Linked DNA regions of Homo sapiens. The protein of the gene in region 2 purifies or fractionates together with the protein of the main gene of each other region. This does not show direct contact. Each region holds a gene or a part of one and is shown on either strand. Other genes may lie near its edges.

Region 1 (4,885 bases), on a different chromosome or scaffold from region 2:
CCGTCTCTACTAAAAATCTAAAAAATCAGCTGGGCCTGGTGGCGGGTGTCTGTAGTCCCAGCTACTCGGGAGGCTGAGGCAGGAGAATTGCTTGAACCCGGGAGCAGAGGTTGCAGTGAGCCGAGATCACCCCATTGTACTCCAGCCTGGAACAAGAGCGAAACTCCGTCTCAAAAAAAAAAAAAAGAAAAGAAAAAGAAAAAGGCATGGCTGAGCCCTGCTGCTTCCTCCATGCTGGACAAATTGTGGGCATCCTAGCCCTTGATGGGTGCCAGGCTTCGGCGGGGGTCTCTTGTATCCTTCTAGCCTGACCATTTGTAGTAGGTGGACCAGCCCACACTCAGTGTGATATAGTGGCAGGAAGGGACCAGCGTTGTGGATAAGAAGATGGAGACTGGGGTGTGGCAAGACACTGGCTCCAGTGAGCGGCACAGACGTGGGGCAGCATTCCAGCTGTGGGGTGTGCAAAGGCCCTGAAATAGGAGTGGGCGGGGTGGGGCTGTGTGCATGCCTTGGGTGGAACTGGGGCCGTTCTGGTGTGCAGGGAAACTTGAAGAGACTTTGAGCTTTGAGGGAGAGGACAGCCTGGGAGTGGAGCCTCAGGTGAGGACTGAGGATGGCAGTGGCCAGACCACCCAGGATGGGAGCAGTAAACGGCCTCGGGGTGCGTCCTGAAGGTGGAACAGAGCAGACTTGCAGGAGGCAGATGGGGCAGGAGCAAACTGGCAAGGAGAGGAATAGCAAGTTCCGCAATGAACACATTAAGTTTGAGAGGCCAGCAGCCGCTGCACAAAGGATCACAGAGGTCAGGGGGAGCCACTGGACATAGAGCACAGAGGTCAGGGGGAGCCACTGGACGTGGGATCACAGAGGTCAGGGGGACCCACTGGACGTGGGAGCACAGAGGTCGGGGGAGCCACTGGACGTGGGAGCACAGAGGTCGGGGGAGCCACTGGACGTGGGAGCACAGAGGTCGGGGGAGCCACTGGACGTGGGATCACAGAGGTCGGGGGAGCCCCTGGACGTGGGATCACAGAGGTCGGGGCAGCCACTGGACGTAGGATCACACAGGTCAGGGGGAGCTAACAGTTGCCCCAGCTCCCTAGGGAGCCGGTGAGCTCGGCTGAGCTCTGGCGCTCCAAGATTGAGGAGTTGGGTGGAGGAGTGGCAGAGGATCCCCTGGGGAGAGCAAAGTCCCAGAAGACAGAGGAACTCCAGTGGCCCACCGTGTCTGGCAAGGTGGGGACGGGTAAGGGCAGTTTCCGGGGGGAGTCGGGGGCTAAATCGGGGCGGGATGAGAAAATGGGAGTCTATGAGAAGTTTTCTGTGAAGGGCAGCAGGGAGGTGGGTCAGGCGCTGGGGCGGTGGGTCCAGGGGCGAGTCACAGAGAGGCAGCTCCCACGGCGCGCAGAAGGGCTGTGTGAGCAGGTCCATGGTCGCGCAGAGGTGCTCCATGCCAAGCTACGGGAAGGCAGGACTTTGGGGACACAGCCGGTGGGAGATGGGTGAGGCGATCCCCTCAGCACGTCCTTGTCTCTGTAAAACGGCCACTTCCCAGAGGCCTGCAGTTGCAAGTGAAGCTGAGTGAGCACTAAAGGCCTGTTTAGGGTCGAGGCTGTGACGGGCCTCGATGAGGGGCCCACAGCCTTAGCAGACTCAGGAGGCAAAACCAGGGCAGATGATTAGAAATGCGTGGGTGGGGGGACTTGCCTGGGGTCCATGGTGGGGGCAGGGGCCTTGCCTGGGGTCCATGAGGAATAGTCGGCTTGCCCGGGGTCAGTGGGGGGTGGAAGGGGCAGTGGGCTTACCCGGGGTGAGGGGATGGGGGGGCAGTGGGCTTGCCTAGGGTCAGTCAGTTGGGGGACGGGAGGGGCAGTGGGCTTACCCGGGGTGAGGGGATGGGGGGGCAGTGGGCTTGCCCAGGGTCAGTGAGGGGATGGGGGGGCAGTGGGCTTGCCCGGGGTCAGTGGGGGTGCTGAGGGGGGCAGTGGGCTTGCCTGCCTTTTCCGTTGCCTCATTTTATCTCAGCAGTAAGTAACAGTGGTAGAGCCGACTGTGACCAGCCTTCTTGTCCCTCCCCCAGAAGCTGGGGAAACTGTGCCCCCCGACACCTCCAAGATGCTGAAGCTAGCACAGCAGTGTCTGGAGAGGGCCCAGTCGACGGCCGCCAAGCTTGGTGGGTCTCCTGCAGTAGGCGGCTCTCCTGGGGCATCCCCCAAGCCCGCATCTCCTCTGTGGGATGTGGCCCACCGCTTGACCCCTGGTTACCCATGGCTTGCAGGGAAAACACGCCTGAAGCCAACCATGCCTGCAGCTGCTCCCATTCCCCAGCCTGCCGGCCGACACCGCCGTGTATACTCCGATGAAGGAGGAAAGCTCTCTCCTTTTCTGCCACCCGAGATCTTCCAGAAGCTTCAGGGGGCAGAGTCACAAAGCTGTAAGAAGTAAGATGGACAAGATGGGAGGTGGGATGAGCCTGGGATTGGGTTTTTGAGGCTGAGAAAGATGAGCTGATGACAGCGATTTTTTTTTTGTTTTTTGAGACAGAGTCTCACTCTGTCACCCAGGCTGGAGTGCAGCGGCTCAATCTTGGCTCACGGCAACCTCCACCTCCCGGGTTCACACCATTCTTCTGCCTCAGCCTCCCAAGTAGCTGAGACTACAGGCGCCCACCACCACACCCAGCTAATTTTTTGTATTTTTAGTAGAGACGGGGTTTTGCCATGTTAGCCAGGATGGTTTCGATCTCCTGACCTCGTGATGCGCCTGCCTCGGCCTCCCACAGTGCTGGGATTACAGCGTGAGTCACCGCGCCCGGCCCCCACAGTGCTGGGATTACAGGCATGAGCCACTGCGCCTGGCCTGACAGCGAATGTTTTTAAAATGAGTCCCAGAATGGGAATATCCCCTGGCCGGACACAAGCAAATGCAGGCGGCCTGGTGGCTCACGCCTGTAATCCCAGCACTGTAGGAGGCCGAGGCGAGCAGATCACCTGAGGTCAGGAGTTCCTGACCAGCCTGGCCAACATGGTAAAACCCCGTCTTTACTAAAAATACAAAAATTAGCTGGCCGTGGTGGTGTGCACCTGTAATCCCAGCTACTCAGGAGGCTGAGTCCAGGAGAATCGCTTGATCCTGGAAGGTGGAGGTTGCAGTGAGCGAAGATTGTGCCACTGCACTCCAGCCTGGGCAACAAGAGTGAAACTCCGTCTCAAAAAAAATTAGGCATAGTGGTGTGCCCCTGTAGTCCCAACTACTAGGGAGGCTGAGGTGGGAGGCTCACTTGAGCCTGACAGGTTGAGGGTGCAGTGAGCCGTGATTGTGCCAGTGCACTCCAGCTTGGGCAACAAAATGAGACTCTGTCTAAAAAAAAAAAAAATGACCGGGCGCGGTGGCTCACGCCTGTAATCCCAGCACTTTGGGAGGCCGAGGTGGGTGGATCATGAGGTCAGGAGATCGAGACCATCCTGGCCAACAAGGTGAAACCCCATCTCTACTAAAAATACAAAAAATTAGCTGGGCGTGGTGGCGGGCACCTATAGTCCCAGCTACTCAGGAGGCTGAGGCAGGAGAATCCCTTGAACCCAGGAGGCAGAGGTTGCAGTGAGTTGAGATTGCGCCACTGCATTCCAGCCTGGGCGACAGAGCAAGACTCCATCTCAAAAAAAAAAAAAAAAAAATTTAGCTGGGAACAAGGATGAGTTATATATCTATATATATGTAGAAATCCATACATACAAAACTGAGCAGACAAGTTTATAACAGCAGAGCAGATATAGCTGAAGAGCAAATTCATGTATTGGAAAAAAGGTCAAAAGATAGCTAGAATGAATTACAGAAACAAAAAATAAAGACAGAAAACAAGAGATGGAAAGCCTAACGTGTTCGTTGGAGTTCCAGAAAGAAAATGGGAGGGAGGCCAAGGCAGGCAGATCACAAGGTCAGGAGTTCAAGACCAGCCTGGCTAACATGGTGAAACCCCATCTCTACTAAAAATACAAAACTTAGCTGGGCATGGTGGCGCGTGCCTGTAACCCCAGCTACTTGGGAGGCTGAGGCAGGAGAATCGCTTGAACCCAGGAGGTGGAGGTTGCAGTGAGCCAAGATCGTGCCACTGCACTCCAGCCTAGCAACAGAGCGAGACTCCGGCTCAAAAAAAAAGAAGAAAGAAAATGGGAGAGAGGCATTATTAGAAGTTAGAATGGCAGACAGTTGTCTAGAACTGATGAAAGATACAAAGACACAAATGCAAAAAGCCCAGTGACTCCCAAGTGGGAGAGACGAGAAGGGTCCACTCCTCCTGCCCCTGCTCTGGCGGGGCCTGGCTTCCCAGTCCCCTTGTTTCTGCAATGTGGCTTCAGGGCAGGGTGGCCAGGCGTCAGGCTCTGACTTTCCTCCTTGTCCTCCATTGTCCCTGACAGTGGGAAGGTACGAGGGAACAAAGCTTTCAAGGTGGAGTGGCTGTTGGGAACTGTATAAAGGAGACAGGACACTTCTTCCTTTCATGGGTCACAGACTAATCTGGCTGTTTGACCCACATAGTGCCTTTAAAGCAGGGGTGTCCAATCTTTTGCCTTCCCTGGGCCACACTGGAAGAATTGTCTTGGGCCACACATAAAATACGCTAACACTAACAACAGCCGATGAGCTTAAAAAAAAAAATTGCAAGGCTGGGCGCAGTGGCTCCCGCCTGTAATCCCAGCACTTTGGAAGGCCAAGGCGGGCAGATTACCTGAGGTCAGGAGTTCGAGATCAGCCTGGCCAACATGATGAAACCCCATCTCTACTAAAAAATACAAAAATTAGCTGGGCGTGGTGTCACATGCCTGTAATCCCAGCTACTCGGGAGGCTGAGGCAGGAGAATCACTTGAACCCAGGAGGCGG
Region 2 (4,885 bases):
AATGTTTCAGATAATTTACTTATTACAATACCTTGTTCTTTTCATTAGATTTCTTTTCAGGCCTGAAAAAAGAAACAATTCTTCTTAGACAAACAAATACATAAAATACAAATAATGTCCAAATCTATTATTTTATTATATAAAATCTCGGCATTTATAAGTTATTTATTCTATCCATTAAGTGTTCAGGTCATTTTTTAACAGGTAATGTAAATATAACTATTTTCCACATGGGGAATTAAACTATAAACAGAAAGAGTAACATTAAGGGAGAAAGAAAATATGATAATAATAATATCATTACAAAGAATTGAATTTAGATCAAGCTTTCTGACAGTCAAGGCAAAAGGAAAAACATGTTACTGATATTATGTGATAGAAAGACATATACCAGGACTTCTCATTGCTGTCCTTTTCAATAAAAACAAGCTTTTACTGGCACTGAAACCTATTTGGAAAACATTATTTATGTTCTTATGTGAGGGGAACCCTTTTTTAAATGATAATATTAGCTTTTTCAGGACTTATTATGCAGACACTATGCATCATTCTAAGCACTGTGCATGTGTCAAGCTCATTTTAATCATCATAACAATTCTTTGAGGTAGGTAATATTAGGGCTTCTATAAAGAAAGAAACTAGGCCCAGAAAGGCCATATAAATTTTCCCAGCCCATAGAGCTGGTCAGTAATTGACACAGCATTGAAATCCAAGAATTCTCCCTCCAAAACATGTGTTTTGCAATATGCTGTGAAGGTAATATTTATATTCAAGTGTTTTTAAGAGATATGATAGCAGACAAATCCATATTATCATTCTGTTTTTGGCTATAACTAAAAATTTCTGATTATCATTCTGTTTTTGGCTATAACTAATAATTTCTGAATCCTGCACTTTTTTTTCACCTTTTGAAAATTGCAGTGTCTTTTTTTTATATATACATACTTTAAGTTTAGGGTACATGTGCATAACGTGCAGGTTTGTTACATATGTATACATGTGCCATGTTGGTGTGCTGCACCCATTAACTCATCATTTAGCATTAGGTATATCTCCTAATGCTATCCCTCCCCCCTCCCCCCACCCCACAACAGTCCCTGGTATGTGATATTCCCCTTCCTGTGTCCATGTGTTCTCATTGTTCAATTCCCACCTATGAGTGAGAACATGAATCCTGCACTTTTTTAAAAAATAAAGACTTTATACAGAGGCAAGTTTGGAAACCTACTACTTTCAAAAAACTAAAAATTAGTTTTTAAAAGAAATTTATCAATGTCATTCATTTATTTCTTCAACTGTTTATTCATGCATTCAACAAATACTCATTGAGCATACAATATATGCTGATAACATTGCTGGCCCAGGAAAATATGGCTTTGATGCTTTAGGAGTTTATAATCCTGAAGTAATAATCTGCAATAGATTGTCAATAGTTTGCTTTTCTCAACTTCATGAACAAAATCCTTCCCTACTCCCCAGAATCTAAACAATCATAAAGTTGATACACCTGATATTTTAGAGTAAGTACCTAAGCAAATCATGGCTATTCATGATGCTACTGTCAAAGGTAGTGCAAGATGTGCAATTATGAAGGAACATTTAAATTCTATTCAGCATGGCCTAAGTGTGTGAATGTTTATTATAATTCTTTTTAAAAATCTGTGTATGACAGTTTAAGTTTTAGGTCATCATCGGCATGTACAGTTACACTAACATGTTACACTTCTGAACCAATTCTGAAAAAACAACTCTAATCATAAAACTATACATGAATAGAAGTTCTAAGGGCAATTAGTTTGCTAAAAATCCATAAAAGATAATGAATCAAGCTGTCTAATGCTTAGACATGCAACCAAGCAAACAAAATTACCTTTCATAACCATGTTCTTCTCTTATGGATCATTCCCAACAGTAAAAAATAAACTCTAAAAATTTCTGTTTTGAAACACAAAGAGAGAAAACTCCCTCAAATCCCACACTCTTTTTTAATTATTGCCCATTTCTATATTGCCTTTCCCAGCAAATTTTCTCTCAAGAGTTGTCTACATTCATCCACTACAGATTTCCATGGCTATCATTTGTTGAAACTTCTCCTAGTCAAAGTCACTAATCCTTATTATAATCAATCTTTCAACAGCACTGATACAGTTGAGTATTTCCAGTTTGAGGAGACTATATTATTCTAGTTCCAGGAAAAGTAATTGGTGTTAACGTTCTTTCCTAGAGATTTATTTTCTTTTCTTTCTTTTTTGTTCTTTCTTTTTTTTTTTTTTTTTGACTTTAAAATTTTTTTAACCTTAAGTTCTGGGATACATGTGCAGAACGTGCAGGTTTGTTACAAAGGTATACATGTGCCATGGTCATTTGCTTCACCTATCAACCTGTCATCTAGGTTTTAAGTCCTGCATGCACTAGGTATTTGTCCTAATGCTCTCCCTCCCCTTGCTCCCTCACCCCCAGGCAGGCCCCAGTGTGTGATGTTCCCCTCCCTATGTCCATGTGCTCTTATTGTCCAACTCCCACTTGTGAGTGAGAATATGCAGTGTTTGGTTTTCTGTTCCCATGTTAGTTTGCTGAGAATGATAGTTTCTCACTTCATCCATGTCCCTGCAAAGGACATGAACTCATTCTTTTTTATGGCTGAACAGTATTCCATGGATTATATTTGTCACTTTTTTTATCCAGTCTATCATTGATGGATATTTGGGTTGGTTACAAGTCTTTGCTATTGTAAATAATACCGCAATAAACTTACGTGTGCATGTGTCTTTATAGTAGCATGATTTATAATCCTTTGGGTATATACCCACTAATGGGATTGCTGGGTCAAATGGTATTTCTGGTTCTAGATCCTTGAGGAATCACCACACTGTCTTCCACAATGGTTGAACCAATTTACACTCCCACCAACAGTGTAAAAGTGTTCCTGTTTCTCCACAGGCTCACCAGCATCTGTTGTTTCCTGACTTTTTAATGATCACCATTCTAACTGGCATGAGATGGTACCTCATTGTGGCTTTGATGTGCATTTTTCTAATGATCAGTGATGATGAGCTTTTCTTCATGTTTCTTGGCCACGTAAATGTCCTCTTTTGAGATGTGTCTGCACATATCCTTTGCCCACTTTTTGAGGGGGTGTTCCCAGATATTTCTTATAAAGGACTTATAAATTTTACCTTCTTTACCATCTATTTCACTTAAACTGCTATCATCATTTACTTGTTGCAGACCATGAGTTAGTAAATTGGCCTTCTCAAATATGGGTGTAATCACAGATTATTTTGAGGTCCGTTTTTTATTTTCATGTTTCTTTCTTCATATGCAAGGCAAAAGCTCTACTTTAAAAACTCTATAAAAAGCCAATGTTTCCTAATAACTCTATTGACAATGAACAAAAAAACCACAATTTTTGTAAAACTCCAACTGTTTTCCATCTCATTGCACTGATTAATTTTTTAAATGTTTAGAACTACAAACAACATAAAAGGAAATGTGCATCCCCTGCTTCAAAAACAAGGTAATATACAATTATAATACATTGTGTTCTGTAAGAGTTGATATATTAAAAAGTTATATTTTAGCACAAGGAAGGCTTTAGAGAAGAGGCAAAATATAAGAAGGGCCCACTAGGGAAAAACAGTGAGAGAAAATCCTTCCAGTTAGAGAACAGAATGTGAGCACAAAGATTAAGCACATGAAGTCTAGATGCTTACTAAGAACTTGAAAGGAAAAGTGTAAAATACTTGGAAGCTAAGAATAGGAGATGAATCTACACTACACTTGAATGCTATATTAAAAAGCTGGAGTCCACTGAATATGAGAAATGACTGTTAAACATGAAAATCACAATTAGATTTGGGCTATATTTCTGTTTCTATTATTCAATATAATAATGTTTACCTTTAAATACAATTTCAAAAGTAGCTGTGGCACATAAAACATGAAAGACGAAATCAGGAAAATGTCTTCAGGGAGGGTGTATTAGTCCATTTTCACACTGCTATAAAGAAATACTGAAGACTGGGTAATTCATAAAGGCTAAGTTTCTCCTTGGTCCCTTTTAGCCACAGTTGGACCTGTAGTGGCTGAATGCAGGGCAGCAAGTCCTGAGGCTGCACACAGTACCAGGGCCCTGGACCCAAACCTATGAAACCATTTTTTCCTTCCAGGACTCTGGGCCTGTGATGCGAGTGGCTGCCACGAAGATCTCTGTCATGCCCTAAAGACACTTTCTCCATTTCATGGCAATTAACATTCCGCTCCTCGTTATTTATGCAAATTTCTGCAGCCAACTTGCATTCGTCCATAGAAAATGTGTTGTTTCTCTTTTCTACCAAATGGTCAGGCTACAAATTTTCCAAATTTATGCTCTGCTTCCCTTTTAAACATAAGCCCCAGCTTAAAACCATCTCTTTGTGAATGCATAAAACTGAATGCTTTCAGAATCAACCAGGTCACCTCTTGAATGCCTTGCTGCTTAGAAATTTCTTCTACCAGATAGCCTAAATCATCTCTCTCAAGTTCAAAGTTTTACAGATTGCTAGTGCAGGGGCAAAATGCTGTCAGTCTCTTTGCTAAAGCATATCAAGAGTCACCTTTGTTCCAGTCCCCAACAAGTTCCTTATCTCCACCTAAGATCACCTCAGCCTGGACTTCATTGGCCATATCACTATCAGCATTTTGGTAAAAAAAACTATTCAACAAGTCTGTAGGAAGTTCCAAACTTTCCCACATCTTCCTGTCTTCTTTTGAGCCCTCCAAACTGTTAAAACCTCTGTTACTCAGTTCCAAAGTCACTTCCACCTTTTCACATTATCTTTTTAACAATACCCCACTATCCCTGGTACCAATTCTCTGTATTAGTCCATTTTCACACTGCTACAAA

What was found. Proteins that work in one complex are often made in the same cells at the same time.
Region 1: the proteins of POTEA (region 2) and VPS9D1 purify together in Homo sapiens (affinity purification with mass spectrometry; one large-scale study listed by BioGRID and IntAct). This does not show direct contact.

Annotation. Positions count from the first base shown.
Region 1 is NC_000016.10:89,714,021-89,718,905, reverse strand, and holds part of VPS9D1 (VPS9 domain-containing protein 1), read left to right. Parts: intron 1-383; exon of another isoform or gene 384-387; coding exon of another isoform or gene 388-460; intron 461-740; exon of another isoform or gene 741-1,562; intron 1,563-2,001; exon of another isoform or gene 2,002-2,083; coding exon 2,084-2,176; exon of another isoform or gene 2,177-2,281; coding exon 2,282-2,444; intron 2,445-4,885.
Region 2 is NC_000008.11:43,337,056-43,341,940, reverse strand, and holds part of POTEA (POTE ankyrin domain family member A), read right to left. Parts: intron 63-4,885; coding exon 32-62; intron 1-31.